Homo sapiens: one gene and its partners. The protein of the gene in region 1 interacts with the protein of each later gene in a pairwise test. Each region holds a gene or a part of one and is shown in the gene's direction. Other genes may lie near its edges.

The links. The genes of interacting proteins can lie anywhere in the genome.
Region 2: the proteins of PLEKHG4 (region 1) and DTX2 interact in binary tests that used the Homo sapiens proteins (3 or more experiments, as listed by UniProt).
Region 3: the proteins of PLEKHG4 (region 1) and TFG interact in binary tests that used the Homo sapiens proteins (3 or more experiments, as listed by UniProt).

Annotation. Positions count from the first base shown.
Region 1 is NC_000016.10:67,274,894-67,282,570, forward strand, and holds the start of PLEKHG4 (puratrophin-1), read left to right. Parts: upstream 1-4,638; 5' UTR 4,639-4,733; exon of another isoform or gene 4,734-4,982; 5' UTR 4,983-5,151; coding exon 5,152-5,650; exon of another isoform or gene 5,651-5,817; coding exon 5,818-5,913; intron 5,914-5,988; coding exon 5,989-6,112; intron 6,113-6,197; coding exon 6,198-6,291; intron 6,292-6,673; coding exon 6,674-6,751; intron 6,752-6,830; coding exon 6,831-6,944; intron 6,945-7,115; coding exon 7,116-7,214; intron 7,215-7,307; coding exon 7,308-7,456; intron 7,457-7,609; coding exon 7,610-7,677. UniProt on the Homo sapiens protein: Possible role in intracellular signaling and cytoskeleton dynamics at the Golgi.
Region 2 is NC_000007.14:76,457,196-76,464,712, forward strand, and holds the start of DTX2 (probable E3 ubiquitin-protein ligase DTX2), read left to right. Parts: upstream 1-4,513; 5' UTR 4,514-4,641; intron 4,642-4,744; exon of another isoform or gene 4,745-5,416; intron 5,417-6,249; exon of another isoform or gene 6,250-6,349; 5' UTR 6,350-6,514; intron 6,515-7,517. UniProt on the Homo sapiens protein: Regulator of Notch signaling, a signaling pathway involved in cell-cell communications that regulates a broad spectrum of cell-fate determinations.
Region 3 is NC_000003.12:100,726,494-100,733,497, forward strand, and holds part of TFG (protein TFG), read left to right. Parts: intron 1-2,218; coding exon 2,219-2,365; intron 2,366-6,014; coding exon 6,015-6,179; intron 6,180-7,004. UniProt on the Homo sapiens protein: Plays a role in the normal dynamic function of the endoplasmic reticulum (ER) and its associated microtubules. Required for secretory cargo traffic from the endoplasmic reticulum to the Golgi apparatus.

The DNA of each region.
Region 1 (7,677 bases):
GCAACCTCTGCCTCCCGGGTTCCAGCCATTCTCCTGCCTCAGCCTCCCGAGTAGGTGGGATTACAGGTGAGCGCCACCATGCCTGGCTAATTTTTGTTATTTTTAGTAGAGATGGGGTTTCACCATGTTGGCCAGGCTGGTCTTGAACTCTTGACCTTAGGTGATCCACCTGCCTCGGCCTCCCACAGTGCTGGGATTACAGGCGTGAGCCACTGTGCTGGGCCAAAGTTTTTGTTTTTGTTTTAAGTCCTTTAGACACCAGGGGAATTGGATTTGGGACTGCTCTTATCTAGGGATTTCTTTTTTTTTTTTTTTCTTTTTTTTGAGATGGAGTTTCGCTCTTGTTGCCCAGGCTGGAGTGCAATGGTGCAATCTCGGCTCACTGCAACCGCTGCCTTCTGGGTTCAAGCTATTCTCCTGATTCTCCCACCTCAGCCTTCCTGAGTAGCTGAGATATATTTGAGATATAAGTCACATACCATAAAAATTCACCCATTTTAAGTGTACAGTTCAGTGTTTTGAATATACCCATAGGGTTGTGCAGCCCTTACCACAATCTAAGTTTAGAACATTTTCATCATCCCCCAAAAAACCCTGTACTCATTAGCAGTCAGTCCTCATCCCTGGCCCTCCTCAGCCCTAGGTAATAACTAACCTACTTTCTGGCTGTCTGGATCTGAAGGACTTTTGACACACTTGGAAGGTTATACTTTTAGCCAACTTACCTTTACTTTTTCTGCATTATGCGCAGGGAAGGTGTGATGAGAAGGAAGAGTGACTTGGGCTTTGCCCTTAGGTTGTTTACAGGCCACAGTGATAAGGCCTCGTAGTTAACTAGTCGTCAACAGTTTATTTTTTTAATTTTTATTTTTTACTCTTTTTGAGACAGTCTCAGTCAGGTCACTCAGGCTGGAGTGCAATGGTATGATCTTGGCTCATAACCTCTGCCTCCCAGGTTCAAGCAATTCTCCTGCTTCAGCCTCCCAAGTAGTTGGAATTACAGGTGCCCACCACCATGCCCGGCTAATTTTTTGTATTTTTAGTAGAGACAGGGTTTTGCTATGTTGGCCAGGCTGGTCTCGAACTTCTGACCTCAGGTGATCCACCCGCCTCGGCCTCCCAAAGTGCTGGGATTACAGGCATGAGCCACTGCGCCCGGCCGTAGTCAACAGTTTAGAGTCAACAGCCCCAGCTGTCACTCACAAGTGTCATTCTGGGTGTGTTACATGCTCTCTCTGAGCCTCAGTGTCCTCATCTCTCAAATGAGATAATCATACTCACTTCATAAGGCTGCTGTCAGGATTAAATGACAAAATTTAATGGGAAGAATCTACCCAGGGCCTGGCTCAAGGTAAGGGATCATAAATGTCATTATTTGTCGGGCCGGGTGCGGTGGCTCATGGTTGTAATCCCAGCACTTTGGTAGGCCAAGGCGGGTGGATCCCTTGAGGTCAGGAGTTTGAGATCAGCCTGGCCAACATGCTGAAACTCCATCTCTACTGAAAATACAAAAACTAGCTGGGCATGGTGGTGCATGCCTGTAATCCCAGCTACTCTGGAGGCTGAGGCAGGAGAATCACTTGAGCCCAGGAGATGGAGGTTGCAGTGGTGGGGGCAGATGAACATGGTGGGTTTGACAGGGAGGCAGGCAGGTGACTTGGATGCAGGAGAGCAAGTGCGTCAAGCGCTCATCCATGGGTCCTTGCCATGTGACTGGGCAGGGTGGCCTGAGCTGAGAGAACTTGGCTGGGGTAGTCTTCGTGAAGGAGATGCTGCACCCAGGCCTCAAATGAGGAAGGATTTTGATTAGGGGAGATGGGCATGGGCCTTCAGGAAGAGGAGCCAGTGTGAGACTAGACTAGTAATCAGATTTGTTTTCCAGGCCAGTCTGGGAGGTAGATGGGAAGGCTGTGATGCCTCTAAGTGGCCTTGACTGTCATACCAAGGAGTTTGGAGTTTATTTAGGCCAAAGGCAAGAGAGGTCTGGAAGTTCTGGGGTATTTGTTGCCCTCAGTATTTGGGGTAGTACTGAAGAGGGGTGTGCAAGGTGAATGACTGTGGGTCTGTTGTCACTAGACCCAGTGAGGCCCAGAGCCCTCCCCTCCTTTTTATTTATTTATTTATTTTTGAGACAGAGTCTCGCTTTGTCACCCAGGCTGGAGTGCAGTGGTGTGATCTTGCCTCACTGGAACCCCTGCTTTCCAGGTTCATGTGATTCTCTTGCCTCAGCCTCTCAAGTAGCTGGGATTACAGGCATGTGCCACCACATCTGGCTAGTTTTTGTATTTTTAGTAGAGATGGGGTTTTGCCATGTTGGCCAAGCTAGTCTGGAACTCCCGACCTCAGGTGATCTGCCTGACTTGGCCACCCAAAGTGCTGGGATTTTGTGGCATAAGCCACAGTGCCCGGCCCATTTTATTTTTGATTGAGTCATGTTGGCAAGAAATGGGAGGCTGAGGGAGAGTTGGGGAAGGGCCAGGGGAGGGAGGCCCATTCCCATTTTATGATCTCAGTGGAAAAGGCTGCTGTGAGTTGATTCTGCTGCCAGGAGAGCCACAGAGATGGGCCCCATGAGTCACTGCTCAGTCCTGCAAGCTCAGCCCACAAAGCCTGCTGTGGTCAGCCACCCCTGGCTGGCTCCAGGCCCAGCTCCCCAATATTCCCCACTAGGCCTCAGTGTGTCCTCATTTCTATCTGTACCTTTGCCATCCTGGGCCATGCAACCTGTAGCTCTCGGCCTCTTCTGTCTCCTTTCAGGCTGAGTCTCTGAATCTGTCTCCATTTGTGACTCTGGTTTCCATGGGATACATAGATGTGGAGCCTCAGGAGGGCAGGGGTAGTGTGATCAGTGTCAGGCGCCCCAAAGCATTTATTCTGTGCCAGGCCCTGTGCTGGATGCTGAAAGTACGGAAGTGGATAACATACAGTCTCTGTTTCCATGAAGCCTACAATGCACATTCTCTGTGGAGTGGAGAAACCAGGGCCCAGCCCTGCCTCTATCTCAGTATGGCTGTACCTCCCCTGAATCTGCCTGCTGTGCCCAGGGTGCCAGGTCAGCTATAGCCTGTGGCTTGAGGCTCTTCTTTGCCTCTGGCATTCACAGGGGTATGTGTGCCCGCCAGCAGGTCCCCCCCGGCTCTTAGGGCTCCTGGGGGACTTGGCTGGTGGGTGCTGGTGGGCAGCAGAAGGGGAGGGAGGGAGCAGAAGGCAGTGACTCAGTGGGGGTGGCCCTGGGACAGAACTGGGGAGGAAGCCAAGGTTGGATGATGCTTCCTGAAGCCAGGAGGGTGGGAAGAGAGGTCTGGCTGGGAGTTAGGGATGGAGCAGGACAACTCCAAGGCTCCCCTCTGGCAGCCAGACCTGCTCATGAAGAAGGCTCCTCGGTAGCTGCCTGAAAGTCTGGACTCTGGGGGCTGGGCTGGGCTGGGTGGGGAGATTGCTGTTGGTCCCACTGTGCCTGTTGTAATCCCCAGGTTCATGAAAGAGGTGCCTGCCTTAGAGCCAGGGAAGCCGTTGCACCCGGTGCCCCCTCTCCCCAGGGACCATGGGCCTGGGCACACTGTGGGGCTCAGGGTCTTCTCCTGGTCGCAGAGCTGACCTTCCCACAATCTTCCCACAAATTCTGGGGAGTGTCGGGCCAGGCCCACATGCCCTAAAGGGACCTCAAATCGCACAGCTACCCACTTGGGTAGCTTTCATCAGTTCAGGATTCCCTGACTGCGGGTGAAATGAGGGGGCAGGGCACCAACACAGCCCGAGTGCTGGCAGCGGGTGAACGTATAACACAGGGAGTCTTCCCCAGTCCTCACGGCAACCCCAGGAGAAAAATGACTTTCCATTTTTACAGGTGAGGAGGGTGAGGCTCAAAGAGCAGAGTTCCTGGAGCGCCCCCAGCAGGTAAGTGGAGAAGCCAGGCCTGGGCTGGGGGCTCTGGCTCCAGAACCCCACCTCAGCACCAGCCTCCTGCACCGGACTTTGTGGAGAAGGGGGTAAGGGGGTGCCAGGGATGGCAAAGGGGTAGAGGATCTGGTGGACTCTGGCAGGCCTGGGTCAGCTCCACCCATTGGTCTCACTCCCACCCGGATGGCAGCCCCATCCCACGTGGGATCATGCGACCTGTCTCTGGGTGCCCGCGGCGAGGCAGCACCCCGCTTCCCTACACAGAAGGCCTTCCCCTCCCGTCGGCTCATTCAGCCGCGGAAGCCCCTGGGAGACCCCGCCCCGCCCCGTCCCGCGGTGCCCCCCGCGCACTCACCCTCGCTCACCCACGCGGCCTTCCTGGCGGGAGAGCGCTTCCGGCGTCCTCGCCAGGCCCGGGGAGTGGGCACGGTGGAGCTGCCGACCGTTGGTCGCTGCCCCAACCCACGCACTGCGACGCCGCGGGTGAGGCGCGCGGTCTGCGGGGCCCGGGGGTGCGGCGGGGCGGGGCTGGCGGGCTGTCCGGGCCCACGGAGAGGACGGCGGCGGGCGGGGGTTGCTGCAGGGCCCGCACCTTGTCTTCCGCGCCGGCAGGGCTGTGCCCCGTCGAGACCTGCTCGGGCTGTGGCTCCGTCCTCCGGCCTCCAGGGGGCGGCGCGGCGCTGCGCGGCGCCCCGGCGGCACTGCCCTCCCTTCCCAGCGGCCAGGAGGCGGTGTCCCGTGACGCCGCGCGGCCGCGCTGTAGTGGCCGTCGAGGCCGCCGTCTGTTCGAAGGCTGTCCGACTTCACGGTTCCCCGCGGCTCGGCCCGGGGGCGTGAGTGTCGCCAGCGGGCGACGGGGGGGCGCGCGGTAGGCCCTGCAACAAGGCCAGGGCCTGGGGGGGCCGGCAGGAGAGCGAACCCGAGGCATCGTGGTGCCATGGCGGGGCCGCCCCCACGGGCATGGGCCTGCAGAGCGTGGCCGTGAGGACGCTGAGGGTGGGCGCGCACGGAGCAGAGGCCCACGGGCGTCCGACGGGGGACCTGGACAGAGGGACACCCTTAACGTTATTCCCTCTTCCCAGGCCTGAATTGCAGTTCCTGTGCCCTGGCACTAAGACTGGCACCTCCTGCGGCCCATGCCCTTCGCCTGCATTGCCCACTGAGTCCCACTCGACTGTCTTCAGCGCGGTTCACACTGAGACCCAGCCCTCTCCCGCTGGCCCCGAGCAGGCCCACCTTTAGGAGGGCGTGATGGAAAGGCCCCTGGAGAATGGGGATGAGTCCCCAGACTCTCAGGGCCATGCCACCGACTGGAGATTTGCTGTGTGCAGTTTCAGGGATGCCTGGGAAGAGGAGGAACCTGCTTCCCAGATGCACGTTAAGGACCCAGGTCCTCCAAGACCACCAGCCGGGGCCACCCAGGATGAGGAGCTACAGGGCAGCCCCTTGTCCAGGAAATTCCAGTTACCCCCAGCTGCAGATGAGTCGGGGGATGCCCAGAGGGGCACAGTAGAAAGCTCCTCAGTCCTGTCAGAAGGGCCAGGCCCCTCTGGAGTGGAGAGTCTCCTATGCCCCATGTCCTCCCACCTCAGCTTGGCACAGGGTGAGAGTGACACCCCAGGGGTAGGGTTGGTAGGGGACCCAGGTCCAAGCAGGGCGATGCCATCTGGCTTGAGCCCTGGGGCATTGGACAGCGACCCTGTGGGCCTTGGAGACCCTTTATCAGAAATATCAAAGCTGCTGGAGGCAGGTAAGGAAGGCTGGGCTAGGGAAGTCTGGGAAGGGAATGGGGATGCCTGGAGAGATGAGTGTCAAGACTTTGGAGGTCTCTGACCCTACTCAGGCTGAAGCCCGGGTCCAAGTAGGGGTCTCTGGATAGGTGGTCCAAGGCAGACCCAAGTCATTTCCCTTCCCAAGCCCCCAGTGGATCCGGCCTCCCTAAGCCTGCTGACTGCCTCCTGGCCCAAGACCTCTGTTGGGAGCTGCTGGCCAGTGGTATGGCCACCTTGCCAGGTAGCCAGGCGGGCCTAGAGGCGGTGGAGGTGGAGTGGCCCAATACGGCAGGAGTTCACTGCTTCCTCCCCACAGGGACTCGGGATGTCCAAGGCCGGGCAGTGCTGCTTCTGTGTGCCCACAGCCCAGCCTGGCTTCAGTCTGAGTGCAGCAGCCAGGAACTCATCCGCCTCCTGCTGTACCTGCGAAGCATCCCCAGGTTTGAGGGAGGGGGTTGGGAGACTGAGCCTGAGCCAGCTGTGAGGACTGGGAGTCAGGTACTGAACTGAAGCTCACCCCTTTAGGCCCGAAGTACAGGCACTGGGACTGACAGTGCTAGTTGATGCCCGAATTTGTGCTCCAAGTTCTTCCCTCTTCTCTGGGCTCAGCCAACTACAAGTGAGTACAGGATTGTAGCTCCCCTCATTCCTTTTCTTTTCTTTTTTTTTTTTTTTGAGACGGAGTCTTGCCTTTGTCGCCCAGGCTGGAGTGCAGTGGCGCAATCTTGGCTCACTGCAAACTCTATCTCCCCGATTCAAGTGATCCTCCTGCCTCAGCCTCCCAATTAGCTGAGATTACAGGCACCTGCCACCATGCCCAGCTGATTTTTGTATTTTTTAGTAGAGAGGGGGTTTCACCATGTGTTGCCCAGGCTGATCTCGAACTCCTGAACTCAGGTGATCCTCCCGCCTCGCCTCCCAGAGTGCCGCAATTACAGGCGTGAGCCACCATGCCCTTTTCTGTAGAGTTGGGGATAGTGCTGAGCTCAGGTTCCTTGCAGGAAGCAGCCCCAGGGGCCGTGTACCAGGTGCTGCTAGTGGGAAGCACGCTGCTGAAGGAAGTGCCTTCCGGGCTGCAGGTACTAAGCCCAGTTGGCTAGGGGTAGAGGTGGGGTGCCTCCCCCCAGGCCTGGGTCACAACACCTTCTTCTCCTGTAGCTGGAGCAGTTGCCTTCTCAGAGCCTGCTGACCCACATCCCAACGGCGGGGCTGCCCACTTCGCTAGGAGGAGGCCTGCCTTACTGCCACCAGGCCTGGCTGGATTTCCGAAGGGTCAGTACACTGGGTGGGGCATGGGGGCAGTCATATAGGCAACTTGGGATCATGGAGGAGCCTCTCTGGGGCTGGCTTGAACCAGACAAAGCTGGCTGCAGTGGCCTGGAACCCAGGAAGCCCAGGACCAACACTGCATGCTGCTCCGGTCATGCCTGCCCCTGCTTACAGCGGCTGGAAGCTCTACTACAGAACTGCCAGGCAGCTTGTGCCCTGCTCCAGGGGGCCATCGAAAGTGTGAAGGCTGTGCCCCAGCCCATGGAGCCTGGGGTGAGTGTCCCCTCCCAGTCCCTCCATGAATGCTCCCTGTCTCCCTCCTTCTCTCCCATGGCCACCTCCACAGCTTATTGCCCTCAATCACAGGAGGTCGGTCAGCTGCTACAGCAGACAGAGGTCCTGATGCAGCAGGTGCTAGACTCGCCATGGCTGGCATGGCTACAATGCCAGGGGGGCCGGGAGCTGACATGGCTGAAGCAAGAGGTCCCAGAGGTGACCCTGAGCCCAGACTACAGGTGAGTGCAAGCCCGGCCCCCAGATCTTGCCCCAGCCCACCATATTCTATGCCAGGACTCATCTGGCTAGCTCAGAACCTGGTAGGACTGTGGTGCCAGGACAGGGTGGAGTGGTGCAAGGCAGGGGGTCTAAGATGGTATACCCTACACCAGGACGGCAATGGACAAGGCTGACGAGCTATATGACCGGGTGGATGGATTGCTGCACCAACTGACCCTGC
Region 2 (7,517 bases), on another chromosome or scaffold:
GCCAACAGTCACATTCTTTCTTGGGCCACGTCATTCATTTTCAGTTGCTTCAGAGCACTGGTGGCCCCTTGGGTGTGTTGAACAAACCCCAGCCTTTGAGGAGTTCAAAAAAAAAAAAAAAAAAAAAGACACCATCTCTAGGCGGAAAATTTCAGACAAAGAACCCCTGCCAGGAATATTTCCTGCCGCTGCTCCTGCCACTGCCCCTTAGGCTGTGGACCTTTATGCAAGAACGCAAGTGGCAAACTGCCCTACTGTGTATGTTGTGGGGAGTGGGGGTACTGCCAGAGAAGAGAGAGCCCTATTTTATTTTATTTTATTTTATTTTAAAGACAGAGTCTCACTCTGTTGCCCAGGCTGGAGTGCAATGGCACGATCTCGGCTCACTGCAACCTCTGCCCCCTGGGTTCAAGAGATTCTCCTCCCTCAGCCTCCCCAGTAGCTGGGATTACAGGCGCATGCCACCACGCCTGGCTAATTTTTGTATTTTTAGTGGAGACGGGGTTTCCCCATGTTGGCCAAACTCCTGACCTTATGTGATCCTCCCACCTTGGCCTCCCAAAGTGCTGGGATTAGAGGCATGAGCCACTGTGCCCAGCTGACAGCCCTCTCTAAATCTTTAAAAATTCAGTCAGGCGTGGTGGCTCATGGCTGTAATCTCAGCACTTTAGGAGGCTGAGGCAAGAGGAATGTGTGAGCCCAGGAGTTTGAGACCAACTTGGGCAATATGGTGAGACCCTATCTTGACAGAAAATACAAAAATCAGCCTGGCATGGTGGTGCACGCTTGTAGTCCCAGCTACTCAGGAGGCTGAGGCAGGAAGATCACTTGAACCCAGGAGGTCGAGGCTGCAGTGAGCTATGATCACGCCACTGTACTCCAGCCTGGGAGACACTGTCTCAAAAAATAAATAAATAAAATCTTTAACAATTCTTCAGCTTATCCGCCTACCTTCTGGGGCTTCTTGGGTCTCTTCCCAGAAACTTTCTTCGTCTGTAAGCCCGTTTATTGTATGCAATTGTTTAAAAAACACAAATGGGTGCATATTCTCATATTCTCTACCCTCTATTTTGAACGTTCCTTTTTTTTCTTTTTTTCAGACCGAGTCTCAGTCTGTCACCCAGGCTAGTGCAATGGTGCAATTTTGGCTCACTACACCCTCTGCCTCCCAGATTCAAGCGATTCTCCTGCCTCAGCCTCCCGAGTAGGTGGATTACAGGTGTGCACCGCTGCACCCAGCTAATTTTTGTATTTTTAGTAGAGACGAGGTTTCACCATGTTGGCCAGACTGGTCTTGAACTCCTGATCTCAGGTGATCCACCTGCCTCCGCCTCCCAAAGTGCTGGGATTATAGGCATGAGCCGCCTTGCCTGGCTCAAAGTTCCTTTTTGGTTTAACAATAGATCTAGGCCACTGTGAGTCTTCCTCATTCCTTCTAGGGCTACCTAGTGTTCCGGGGTTATTTAACCAGCCCCCTCCTACCAGGCAGTTCTTTTGTCTCTGGCCCTTTGCTACGTATATTAGTTTAAAGTTCACTTTGCAAGTGGCCAAGCCTGTTTCCCTCATTTCCAGGTTCCCAGGGGGCAGACATCCTGCTGCAATTTCAGAAGTCAGCACACTCTTCTCTCTCCTGTCTAAAATACAAAAGTCCATGCCCCCCACTCTCCCTCTTGATACTGTCCTATTTTACTTCTTTTCACAACCAGAACTCTTTATTTTTCCCAAATAAAAATAGTCCGTCTTTTCAGATTTTAAAAATGGAACTCTGGCCGGATGCGGTGGCCCTCACCTGTAATCCCAGCACTTTGGAAGGCTGCAGTGGGCAGATTACCTGAGGTCAGGAGTTTGAGATCAGCCTGGCTGACATGGTGAAACTCTGTCTCTACTAAAAATACAAAAATTAGCCCGGATGCGGTGGCTCACATCTGTAATCCCAGTACTTTGGGAGACCGAGGTGGGCAGATCACGAGGTCAGGAGTTCAAGACCAGCCTGGCCAACATGGTGAAACCCTGTCTCTACTAAAATACAAAAATTAGCTGGGCATGGTGGCATCCGCCTGTAATCACAGTTACTCGGCAGGCTGAGGAAGAATTGCTTGAACCTGGGAGGCGGAGTTTGCAGTGAGCTGAGATTGTGCCATTGCACTCCAGCCTGGGCGACAGAGCAAGACTCCGTCTCAAAAATATATATATATACAAAAATTAGCTGAGTGTGGTGGTGCATGCCTGTAATCCCAGCTACTCGGGAGGTGAGGCAGGAGAATCACTTGAACCTGGGAGGCGGAGGTTGCAGTGAGCCGAGATTGTGCCATTTCACTCCAGCCTGGACAACAAGAGCAAAACTCGTCTCAAAAAAAAAAAAAAGGAAAATAAAAATCCCTGATAAAGGATCAATGACCTTAGGATAATGTCATTCCAGGTAAGTATCTTTAACTGGGTACTTGGTCCTCCAAGATTCAGAGGACCTTGATCCCCCTGAAACTGTATACATAATATTCAACATACATAGTATGTGCACACATGTGCAAACACTCACATTATCTAAAATTCATCATAATCTTACCCCGGCTTCTCCCCACACTCCTCAGATCCTGCTATAGCCTAGTGCATTTTCTCCTTCCTCACTCCCTTCCCTCCATGTGTCCTCTGCCCTGGCCACCAGGAACTTTGTGCTGCCTCCGGAGTGCATGAGGCACTTTCACATCTCTCTTGCTTTACAAGAGCTTCCCTATGCTCCAACTGGCAAATTTCTCTATGGACTGAAAAACCCACATAGCCTTTATCTGTCTTGTGATGTCTTCTCCCCACCCTCAAGTTAGGCATACCCTTCTATGCCCTCCTTTATCCAAACATTTTCCCCACTATATCGTAATTGTGTGTTTAAGTGCCGGACTTTCCAACTAGATACAAAGCTTTCCCAGGAAAGAAATCCTTTTCTTTTCTTCTTTCTTTCTTTTCTTTTCTTTTCTTTCTTTTTTTTTTTTTTTTTTTTGAGACAGATTCCCACTGTGTCGTCCAGGCTGGAGTGCAGTGGCACAATCTTGGCTCAGTGCAACCTCCACCTCCAGGGTTCAAGTGATTCTCTTGCCTCAGTCTTCCAAGTAGCTGGGATTACAGGCACGCGCCACCACACCCAGTTAATTATTATTATTATTATTATTTTTTTTTTTTTTTGAGACGGAGTCTCGCTCTGTCACCCAGGCTGGAGTGCAGTGGCACAATCTCGGCTCACTGCAAGCTCCGCCTCCCGGGTTCACGCCATTCTCCTGCCTCAGCCTCCCGAGTAGCTGGGACTACAGGAGCCCACCACTACGCCCGCTTAATTTTTTTTTTTTTTTGTATTTTTAGTAGAGACGGGGTTTCACCGTGGTCTCGATCTCCTGCCCTCGTGATCCGCCCGCCTCGGCCTCCCAGAGTGCTGGGATTACAGGCGTGAGCCACTGCGCCCGGCCTCCACACCCAGTTAATTTTTGTATTTTTAGTAGAGACGGGGTTTCACCATGTTGGCCAGGATGGTCTCAATCTCTTGACCTTGTGATCTGGCTGCCTCGGCCTCCCAAAGTGCTGGGATTACAGGCGTGAGCCACCGCTCCCGGCGAGAAACCTTTTCTTTTTCTTTTTTCTTCTTCTTCGTCTTTTTTTTTTTTTCTTTTGAGAGGGATTCCTGTTCCGTCGCCCAGGCTGGAGTGCAATGGCGCGATCTTGGCTCACTACAGCCTCTGCCTCCCGGGTTCAAGCGATTCTCTTGCCTCAGCCTCCCGAGTAGCTGGGATTACAGGCACGAGCCACCACGCCCGGCTAGTTTTTTTTGGTATTTTTAGTAGAGACGGGGTTTCGCCATGATGGCCAGGCTGGTCTGGAACTCCCGACCTCAGGTGATCCGCCCACCTCTGCCTCTCAAAGTGCAGGGATTACAGGCATGAGCCACTGCGCCCAGCCAAGAAACCATTTCTGATTCACCTATTCACTCCCGCACTCCCACTACACAGTAGCTAAATAAATAAATAAATATTAAAAATAAATAGGAAAGAAAGAGAGAAAAAAAGAAAAGAAAAAGACAAAAATTTAAATTTAAAAAGGTTGTGCTCGATGGCTCACACTTGCAACCCCAGTGCTTTGGGAGGCTGAATGAAGCAAGAGGATCGCTTGAGGCCAGGAGTTTGAGATCGGCCTGAGCAACGTTGCAGCATTGCAAAACCCCCATCTGTACAAAAAAGAAAAATAAAATTAATTTTAAAAACAAAAAAAGAGAAACAGTAGCACATGTATGTACTGGCACCATGTATGTACTAGTAAAAACTAGTTAAAATTAAGTCAGTAATTAATGAAGGAATAAGTCAATGAGTGAGCAGGCGAAGGAAGAAAACATAGACCGGAGCAGGTGCGCCTTGGGTTGAGCCCTTCCCCGCTGAGCCCCGCCTTCTGCCCGCCCCTGGGCCCTACCGGGACTACATTTCCCAGAAGGCCGCACGCCCCGGGCATGCGCAGCGGCTCGCTCGGAAGCTGCGACGCCGAGTTTCACTCTGGCTGCCTTCTCCTGAGAGTCGGAGCCACAGCCAGAGCCCTGCCCAGGCCGAGCCGGAGCTGCAGCCCGAGCGCGGTGGTGCCCTCAGCCCCGTCCTCTTGTCCTCCTCAGCCTCGGTGAGAGGGCGGGAAGGCCACCTGCGCGTCGCTAGGGCTGCGGTCCCAGGGGCGCGGGGTGGCGCGGGGAGCCGGAGCCTAGCTGGGACCGGAAGGGGGCGGGCGTGGGTGTGAGGGGGACCGACGGCCGGGGCGGCGGGGACACCCGGGGGTCCCGGGAGATCGGGGGTGTCGGGGGGATCGGTCTCCGGGATCAAGGTCCTGAGGGCGAGAGTTGGGGGACTTGGGAGGCGCCGGCAGCTTTGGACGGGACAGGGTGCCGGGTGCGAAAGGGGACGTTCGGATGAAGGCTGAGGGGCTCGCAGGCGGAGGGGCGCGGTTCCGGGTCGCTCGGAAGGCGCGCACCCCTTCCCAAAGTACCCAGAGGAGGGGGTGACGAGATTGCCACCGGCTCCCTGACGAGGGGTTGGTCCTGCTGGGGTCTACCCCCAGGTGAAGGGACTCACTGGGCCGGGGGTTGTACTTTGGAGGAGTTTGCTTCCTAACTCTGCTTCCCTGCTTTCCTGTGGGGGGTCTTCCCAGGAGTTCCTGGGGCCCTGGGTCACTTTTTGGGGTGCGTAAGGGGTGCCGAAAAAGATTTAGAACTCGGTTCCCTTTTCTGGAGCTGCGCTTTCATCGCGACTGTCTCAGCCAGCTGCCCTCCTCCTCCAAGCTGGCTCCACTTCTCTAAGCGCCAACAGCGATGGAAATAAATAGCATGTGTACAGACGCCTGGACCCTTGAGAAACTCAGAATATTTCTGCATGCCTTCCTAGCTCCTCTAGCGCTCTAGAAGGTAGACTTTCTGGTAGCCACCATCCGGGCTTAAGCCATCCGGATAGCAAGCCCTCTGATTCGGTTGCTCTGTGACCTTAAATATTTACCCTCTCTGGTGTGTTGATTTCCTGGATGCTTAGCTGCCAGACTGGCTTATGAAGTCCTTTTAGAGTTTTCTGTAAAAGGGCTCAGGCCAGGCACGGTGGCTCATGCCTGTAATCCCAGCCCTTTGGGAGGCCGAGGTGGAAGGATCATTTGAGTCCAGGAATTTGAGACAAGCCTGGGAAACGAAGAGGATTCCTGAGATCACTGTCTCTATAAAAAATCAGATGGGCGTGTTGGTGGGTGCCTGTAGTCCCAGCTACTTGGGAGGCTGAGGCAGGAGGATCGCTTGAGCCCAGGAGTTGGAGGCTGCAGTGAGCTGTGATCACACCACTGCACTGCAGCATGGGCGACAGAGGGAGACCCCGTCTCAAAAAACAAAAAACAAACAAACTAAAAAAACGAACTTTTTTTTTTTTTTAAGAAAAGGGCTCAGAGCCAGGCGTGGTGACTCGAGCCTATAATCCCAGCTACTCGGGAAGCTGAGGCAGGAGAGTAGCTTGAACCTGGGAGGCGGAGGCTGCAGTGAGCCGAGATCACGCCACTGCACTCCAGCTTGGGTGACAGAGCAAGACTCCGTCTCCAAAAACTAATAATAATAAAAAATTTTAAAAAGAGCTCAGGGTTTTTTTGTTTGTTTGCTTTTTGTTGTTTCTTCAACCATCTCCTTGATTGTTAAGTGGGTGGAGGAAGACTGTTGTACCTCCTGCTCCACCCAGGCTATTGGAAAATAAATCTGGTGATTTTCAGTCCCCAGGCACAGCACACGGATCCAACATCTGTACCTTTGTTTTTACTAACTGCTGTTTCTTAATTTAAAACCTGATCATCTTCTTCCTCGTTGGCAAAGGTGCCTTGGAATTTGTGTCGCTGAGTCAGCAAGCCTTTCAGATTTGCCCGGTTTTTGTTGTTTGTGGTTTGTATCAAGATGGGAACTCAAACAAGTCATTCCTCCTAAGGAGCTGGTGTCTTCATCCAGAAGGGACAGTTTGTGCCAGCTCTCCAGAGAGAAAAGGTGAGAGCCATGGGGACTTGACCTTGCTGCCTTCTCTATCTGGTGCAGAGAAGGTGGGGATTGGGGAGGGTGGAATTTGAGGTCTGCAGGATAAACGTGTGCCCTGGGAGTTGACTGTTGATTGCCACCTGTCTCAAATAAATTGCAGTGGCGTCTTGCCACTGCTTCTCCTGTTTAACTAACTAGTCTTAGAAGATGCTTTCCACTTTAAGACATGCTTTATGGGATAGAAGACACAAGTCACGATTTCTGCATTTGAAGTGGCAGTTTTCATTTCTTTTGTTGCATAAACCCTTACTGGGTGCCAGATAAGATCTCTGTCTTTTGGGAGTGCATTGTTTGGTGGAAAAGACAAAGCAGAGTCAGTGACAAGGTGTTGTCAGTGTGATATATACTGAGCTGGGAGAAATCACAAGGCTCTCCTACCCACATCCAGAAAGGGGACGGTTAGAGGGAAGGTCAGGAAGGCTCCTGGAAGGTGGTAGTTGAGGGGGGTTGTGAAGGAGGAGTAGGACTTAGAAAGTGGGGCACAGTCACCTGGGAGAGGAGTCAGCGTTTGCAAAGTCATGAAGCTACCGGGACACAGCTGGGCTACTGTAAGTAGCTTAGTATGTAATAGAGGAGGCTGGAAAAGCAGGCAGAGGGCTCTGAGCGAGGAGGGTTATGTGGGCCATGCCAAGACTCGGGAGTGGAAGGATTTTAGGAGATTTCTATGAGGGTCATTTTATTAATTATTTTTTTGAGTTGGGGTCTGCTTCTGCTGCCCAGGCTGGAGTGCAGTGGAGTGATCATAGTTCACCACAGCCTCAAATTCCTGGGCTCTGGGGTAGCTGAGGTGCCTACCACCATACCCGACTAATAATTTTATCTAGAGACAGTGCCGCTCTACGTTGTCCAGGCTGGTCTCTAACTCCTGGCCTCAAGGGATCCTCCCATCTCAGCCTCCCAAAGTGCTAGGATTACAGGCCTGAGCCACCGTGCCTGGCCTCGTGAGGGACATTTT
Region 3 (7,004 bases), on another chromosome or scaffold:
CTTAATTAATTTAAACTTAGCTAATTTAAACTTTTAATTGAGTATAATTTGGAGCTTAGTGCTCTTAAACCCACTGAGTAGATAATAACAGATTATAGGCCATACTAGGAATGTAAATGCAAGGTTCTTAAAAGTTCTGGTAAGATGTATCAGTGTGCTCCAAAGACCACCAGGAACACACCTGTAGTTGAATGAAGTTGGGTTTACTGACTTACTGCAGCAAGGGAGAATGAATACCACGGAGAACAATAGGATGTCTTACAAGTATGTTAGAAAAGTATTTTTTTTTGGGCTTGGGTTTGTGTTACCTGATTTTGGATAAGGTTCAAGGAAGTAGAGCTTTGCTCTGCATTGGATGCTCTCAGGAAGTAGAGATGATTCTATGTTTGGGTATCTTATCAAATCTTATCTAGAAGGTGAGAGGAATGAATCTTACTAAATCTTATCTGGAAGGTGAGAGGAATGAATTGAGGCTAAAGCTGCAGTTGGTAAAGTAGTAGCAGTTACTCATATTAGCCAGGATAAAAGGTTGTTTGGTCATTTTTCTGGTGTGGTCAGTGTTCTTGTTTTTGTCTGGAGTTTTGACATGGTTATGGACTGTTGATCTATCACAGATTATAGTCTTGTGTGATGTTGGTGTTCTTTGAAATATTTATATTCAACGGGAGAACACCACAGCCTACCTGTGAGTGCCAGGCCAGCTTCCAGCAACACTAAGGCCTGTCTTACTGTACCAGACCAGTTTCTGGCTGCTAGGAGCTGTTTTTCTCATCAAATATTGGAGAAAAAACAGTAATACCAAGTGAAAACCAATAATTGATGTAGGTAGGAGATTGTATTGAACTTCATAGCTATGCAGGGAGTATGTGAATTACTGTGAGTTTTCTTCTAAAAGCTTATAATTGGTGGTTTGATTTTGAAACATGTTTAACAAAGAATCGCCCTGAACTTTTATTTTCACGTAGATGTCCTTTTCTAATTAGGTGCTTCAGGAGTTTGTATGTATGTATACTGGCAATGTGCAAAGCATTTTAGTTTAATTTTTGAACGCCTGTCTTGGGGTTTGCAATCAGAGCCTTGTGTCACTTTCTTTTTAAAAATAACCTGAGTGGTGACAGTGTTTGTTGCTGAATGAAGGATTTCATTTTTTTCAGTCAACTGAAAATCATTTGGACAAAATGAATAATAAGTGAAGTAATGTTGCTTTCATTAAAAAATCACAACTAGAGATTACCGAGTAATCTCTGGCATTTTGTGGCTTATATACTGTTTCTGGAAGTAACTGCTTTGAAGGACAGTCATGATGTAGATAAGTTCTGCATATATTTTTAAATTTATATTTATTTTTTAAAATTTTTTGAGACAAGGTCTCCCTCTGTCATCCAGGCTGGAGTGCAGTGGAGTGATCTCAGCCAACTGGACTTCCCCTCCCGGGATCAAGCAATCCTCCCACCCCAGCCTCCTGAGTAGCTGGGACTGCAGGCATGTGCTGCCACACTTGGCTAATTTTTTAAGGTTTTTGTAGAGATGAAGTCTCACTGTATTGCTCAGGTTTTTCTTGAACTCCTGGGCTCAAGCAGTTCTCCCTCCTTGGCTTCCCAAAGTGGTGGGATTACAGGTGTGAGCCACCATGCCTGGCCCTGCATATATTTTTTTAACGATTTCTTTTAAGATCAGCTATTTTAGTTAGCTGTTTTTTTTCAAGACAAAGTTATGCAAGAGGGATAACAGACCTATCAGTCATGTTATATCTTTAAACATGTATAGAGTAAGGTATTTTTGTATTATTTTAAGAATAGCGTGAAATAAAATGAGCTTTTTAAGTTATATAATTTTTATTAAATTTAATAATTTCTATTAAATTTAATAAATATTTAAGAACAGCATGAAATAAAGTGAGCTTTTGAAGTTATGATTTTTATTAAATTTAATCATTTCTATTAAAAAGTAGAGCTCGGATTTTCCTACCAAACCTTTTTACCAGTAAGGTCATAGGCTATAGGTATGGCATCAAGAAAGACTGATAATTCTGCTTTTTTTCCAAAATAAGTTATTAGCCATAGAGAATTCTTTTTTTTTAAAAAAAAAGTTACTCCATTACATTGATATCTTGTTTTTGTTTTTTTAAAGGAATTGTATTTATTTTTCCTTGTTGCATATTATTAGTATACTTATTCATGAACTTCTAATTTTAAGCAAATAAATGTTTTTATTTCAGTTAATGGCCAGCCAAGACCCCTTGAATCAAGTCAGGTGAAATATCTCCGTCGAGAACTGATAGAACTTCGAAATAAAGTGAATCGTTTATTGGATAGCTTGGAACCACCTGGAGAACCAGGACCTTCCACCAATATTCCTGAAAATGGTAAACCCTGAATCCATTGTATTCTGACTTATTGTTCTTACGTCTTTTTGGAGGTTTTAAAAAACTCTTTTTAAGTAGGAGAAGGATGGCATCCCCAATGTCACTCTTGTTTCTTCCTCTGCCTCTCTACTAGTATTTATGTCTGTGTTCCTAAACTTTGCTGTTCATCAGAATTACTAGGAGGTTTCATTATACCAATTTCTGGATCTCATCATAGACCTACTGGAGCGTAGCACCTGGAAATCCCATTTTTAAAGTGTTTTTTGGGTGATTCTTTCGCAACTAGTCTTAGACTTTTGGATTTGTTACACAGGTCAGTTTTCAAATCCTTTTGACACATGAACCCTTTTTAGTATAATAGATAAGTAATGAACCTTGGGAATTGAAAATCATTTCATGAATAATTACATAGTGTTGGAAGTATTTTCAACTAAAAATCACTTAGATTAGTAATGTTCATTAAAAATGGTATGTTGTAAATTTGAAACACAGTTTTTAATAATAATTAAAGAAAAACTAATTTTTTCCCCATTGTATAATGACATGTACTGTTTGTGTTAAGATAAAGCAAAATGTGTCAACATTTGGAACTGACATAATTTTGGGACCGAATGTATTTTAAAATGTGGACTGAACTTTAAGTATGTGTTAATGACTTGAAAGTACAGTTAAAAAACTGCTTTCTTCTTTTAAGATTCTTAGATGTTGCATTTAAAGAAAACTCTTATTATTATTTTTTTCTTTTTACAAATTCTTTGTTTGCTTATAATTTTCATAGTTTAAAACTGTCCATATTGTGAAATAGTAATTTAAAAAAAGTCTAGACTGGATGACTGCATATAAAGGGCTTAACATGAGATAATTTTTGTGGATAAATGGTATGTATTCTATTTTTGGCCACTAAATATTTTGGAAGTTTTTGTTTTCTATTTTTATTTTAGTTACAGTTTAAATAAAGATGTATTTTCCATCATTTCTCTCTTCCTGTCTTCTAATAGTCATATGGAATTATGTTAATGATAGATGTTTAATAAATATTTGGTGATTGATTATTCCTAGTTGCACTTCTATTTCAGAACATAATGGAGATTTGCTGAATACTATAATGAGATCCTCTTGGTCACTTTATGATGAAACCTTTTATATTTCAGGTCAAAGAAGGTTGCCTATTCTGAGCCCTACCTCTCCAAACAAAAATTTCCAATTTTAGATCAAGAATCAATGAAAAAGTTAGACAATTTTTCCAGAAGAATTCATAGATGCTGACACAACATTTGCATATAATTTCAGGGGATTTAACCATCTGCAGAATATTAAGAAGTGTAGATGAGAATTTAACCAGTATAGCCAATACTGTTCAGAAATTAGCTACAGTGGCCCACATTCTACTCTAAGGAATGGATTTATGAGTTTTTTGCTTTAGGTGAAACTTTTTCCTCACCTCTTTCTTGCTACTGTTTATACTTTATTCTTTGTGTCTATATTTTTTATACATACTGTTAGCTTTTTACCTATGTTAATGTAAAAGGTGTTAAAATTGGTTTCTTCTCTGCATTTTGGAAATCATGCCATATGTTGTTTTCTTGTATGGCCATTTTCTAGTTATTGTGTCCTGTCTGACATATCTGATGATAAGATGATATAAGAATAATACAATCTGCATTATATTTTTAGAGATAGTTCTTATTTTTTTAGAAAACAAAAACAACAAGAAAACCATACATCAGAAACTGAAATCTAGTCCACAAAATGAAATTGCCAATCAGCTATCAGTGCTATTTAGAACCTGTGGCTTACCCTCACCAAGAAATGTGGCCACCTGTGGTCTTCAGCTCTCTATTACAGCGGTTCTTGGATGCTTGTTTTCCTTTAAGAGGCAAATGATGTGTAAACTACCTTAGATAGAAGATTGACCTGTTGCAGTATCTCCAGCAGCTAATGGAGCAAGTAGTAGGACGTATAGTATGTTTCCTGATGGTTTTAGTTTGTGATAAGTGAAAAGAGGCATAGGTAGTGAGATGTGAGGGGAAACAACTTGTAAGACTGACGTGGTATGCTCTTGGGATTAGAGGAAGGAAGTTGGTAGGGAAGATAGATAACTGGTAGACATGTTTTAAAGGAATACTTCTAGTAGTAGTTTTCTTTTTCCAAACATTTAGAAAATATTAGGGTAGCCTGGAATGGTATGTTAGGAATGAATGAGCTGCCAGCCAGTGTGTGCTGTGGGTACTTATATTCGGTTTAGCACTTAACATTTTTTTCAGAAGATACATTTTGTATTGATTACAGGGGTGATCTAAGAACTGATGTTCATTTACTTGCTTGGTAACAAAAGTGATAATCATTGTCCCTTAATTGAGTAAATGGTTAGCAACAGTCTTTTTGTTTACTTGTTCGTGTTTTTTGTTTGTTTCTTTTGATGTCTTTTGTATCTTGGACTTGGATTCCTATTTGTAAAATGTATGTTAAAATTCTTGAACTCTTTTTCTTTCACAAGACAGTAGTATAAATGCCTGTGGAATATCTTAGTATCCTGAGAAGAAAAGCATGATTTTAAATTTAACCTGCTCATAATATTTGACATTTTGTTTTTCTGTTGTTGTTTTAAACATTTTATTATAGAAAAGTTTAAGTATATAAGAAAGTAGACATTATAATGAATCCCAGAAACCCACATCCAGTTTCAACAGTTACCAACTTATAGTATCATATAATTACACTATACACATTTCCGCCCCTCCTGTTACCCAGAGTGGAGTACAATCTCAGCTCACTACAAACTTTGCCTCCTGGGTTCAAGTGATTCTCGTGACTCAGCCTCCTGAGTAGCTGGGATTACAGGCATGCATCACTGTGCCTAGCTAATTTTTGTATTTTTGGTAGAGATTGGGTTTTGCCAGGCTGGTCTCGAGCTCCTGACCTCAAGTGATCTACCCACCTCGGCCTCTCAAAGTGCTGGAATTACAGGCATGAGCTGTTGCACCCGGCTCCCCTCCTGTATTATTTTGATGCAGATCCCATATACATCATTTCATCTGTAAGCATTTTAATAAGTATTTTAATAAGTAATACATATTAAAATAGAAGGTAGCAAATTCAAAAATGTTTTTAATGTGCTATTTATGGAAGATTATGAATTAATTATGGTTGGCTTGATTTCCATGTAATTTAATAGTGGACCAGTAGACAGTAGAAATAAAATGTAAAATTTGAGATTATAACCTTAGTTCAGTTTCTTTTTATAAAATAAAGCCTTAGTTCCTATAATTATTATTTCCAGAGTGCCCAGTGGGTATCTGATACTAGGATATAGGTTATTGGGCTCCAAAAAAACCAAAAAAAGTAAAATGTTTCTCTTTATCAAGGAGCTTGTATTTTTTTCATCTAATGTTTCTTACAAAAGGAGGTAAATAATTTTTTTGGAAAGCTTTTGTTCATCTTCTGTTTCTTTTTGCCCTCTTCTCCCTGTTACTAGAAGGAAAAATATAAAAAAAATAAAGGAATTAAAATGATCTGTAATCCTATATTCCGACATGCTTAACATTCCAGACTATCATTATACACCTGCATTATTTCCCTTGTACTTTTAGGCCTTACTGAATATAGATAAAAAGGAAACAAGTTTTTGTTTATTCCTCTATTTTTACAGATACTGTGGATGGTAGGGAAGAAAAGTCTGCTTCTGATTCTTCTGGAAAACAGTCTACTCAGGTTATGGCAGCAAGTATGTCTGCTTTTGATCCTTTAAAAAACCAAGATGAAATCAATAAAAATGTTATGTCAGCGTTTGGCTTAACAGATGATCAGGTTTCAGGTAAGTTGGTTTCCAACTCCTTTACACCCTTCGTTTCCTTCATCTTTCCGTTCTTCCCTTTCCTTCTTTCTTTAATTGAAGAATAACTTGGATATGGTGAAGTGCACAAATCTTAAGGGTTCTGCTTAACAAATTTTTACATATGTGTACACTTATGTAAAAGACTAACTAGATTAAGATGTAGATGATTTCCAGCACTTCAGAAAGCTTTCTTATGTCCTCTCCCCAAGAGTAGCACCCTCCCCCTTAAAGAATAAGCACTGTTGGGTTCAAGTAAATTTTTGAAAGTAAAATTTAGAAAGTTTTTAAAAATCTGAACTATTTTATAATTTGATTAGTTGCAGTATTCGAATTATATTTGATTTGTCTTATCTCCTCATCTTAGAGAAATTGAAAATTAAATGTAGATTTTCTTGTTAAATTGCTTGAGTATACAGTGGGTTTTTATATAAATAAGTTTTTAACCTTAAAGCAGTACCTATATTGTTTTATTCTGTTTAACTTTTGGTTATAATTTCTTCATTATTTTTTCCTGCTTTTTCTCTTTTCGGATTCTAATAACACATACATTGGAGAGCTTGATACTGTCTCATGGGTCATTAAGGTTCATTTTTCTTCAGTCTTCTCTCTGTTCTTCAGGTTGGGTGATTTCTGTTGAACTCTTCAAGGTCGCTGTGATTTCTAATATGCTGTGGAACCTTTCTAGTGAATTGTTTAATTGTGCTTTCAGCTCTAGAATTTCCATTGGGTTTTTATAGTTTCTGTTTTTCTGTTGAGATTCTTTATTTTACATTCATTAAGTCTATATTTTCCTTTAATTGTTTG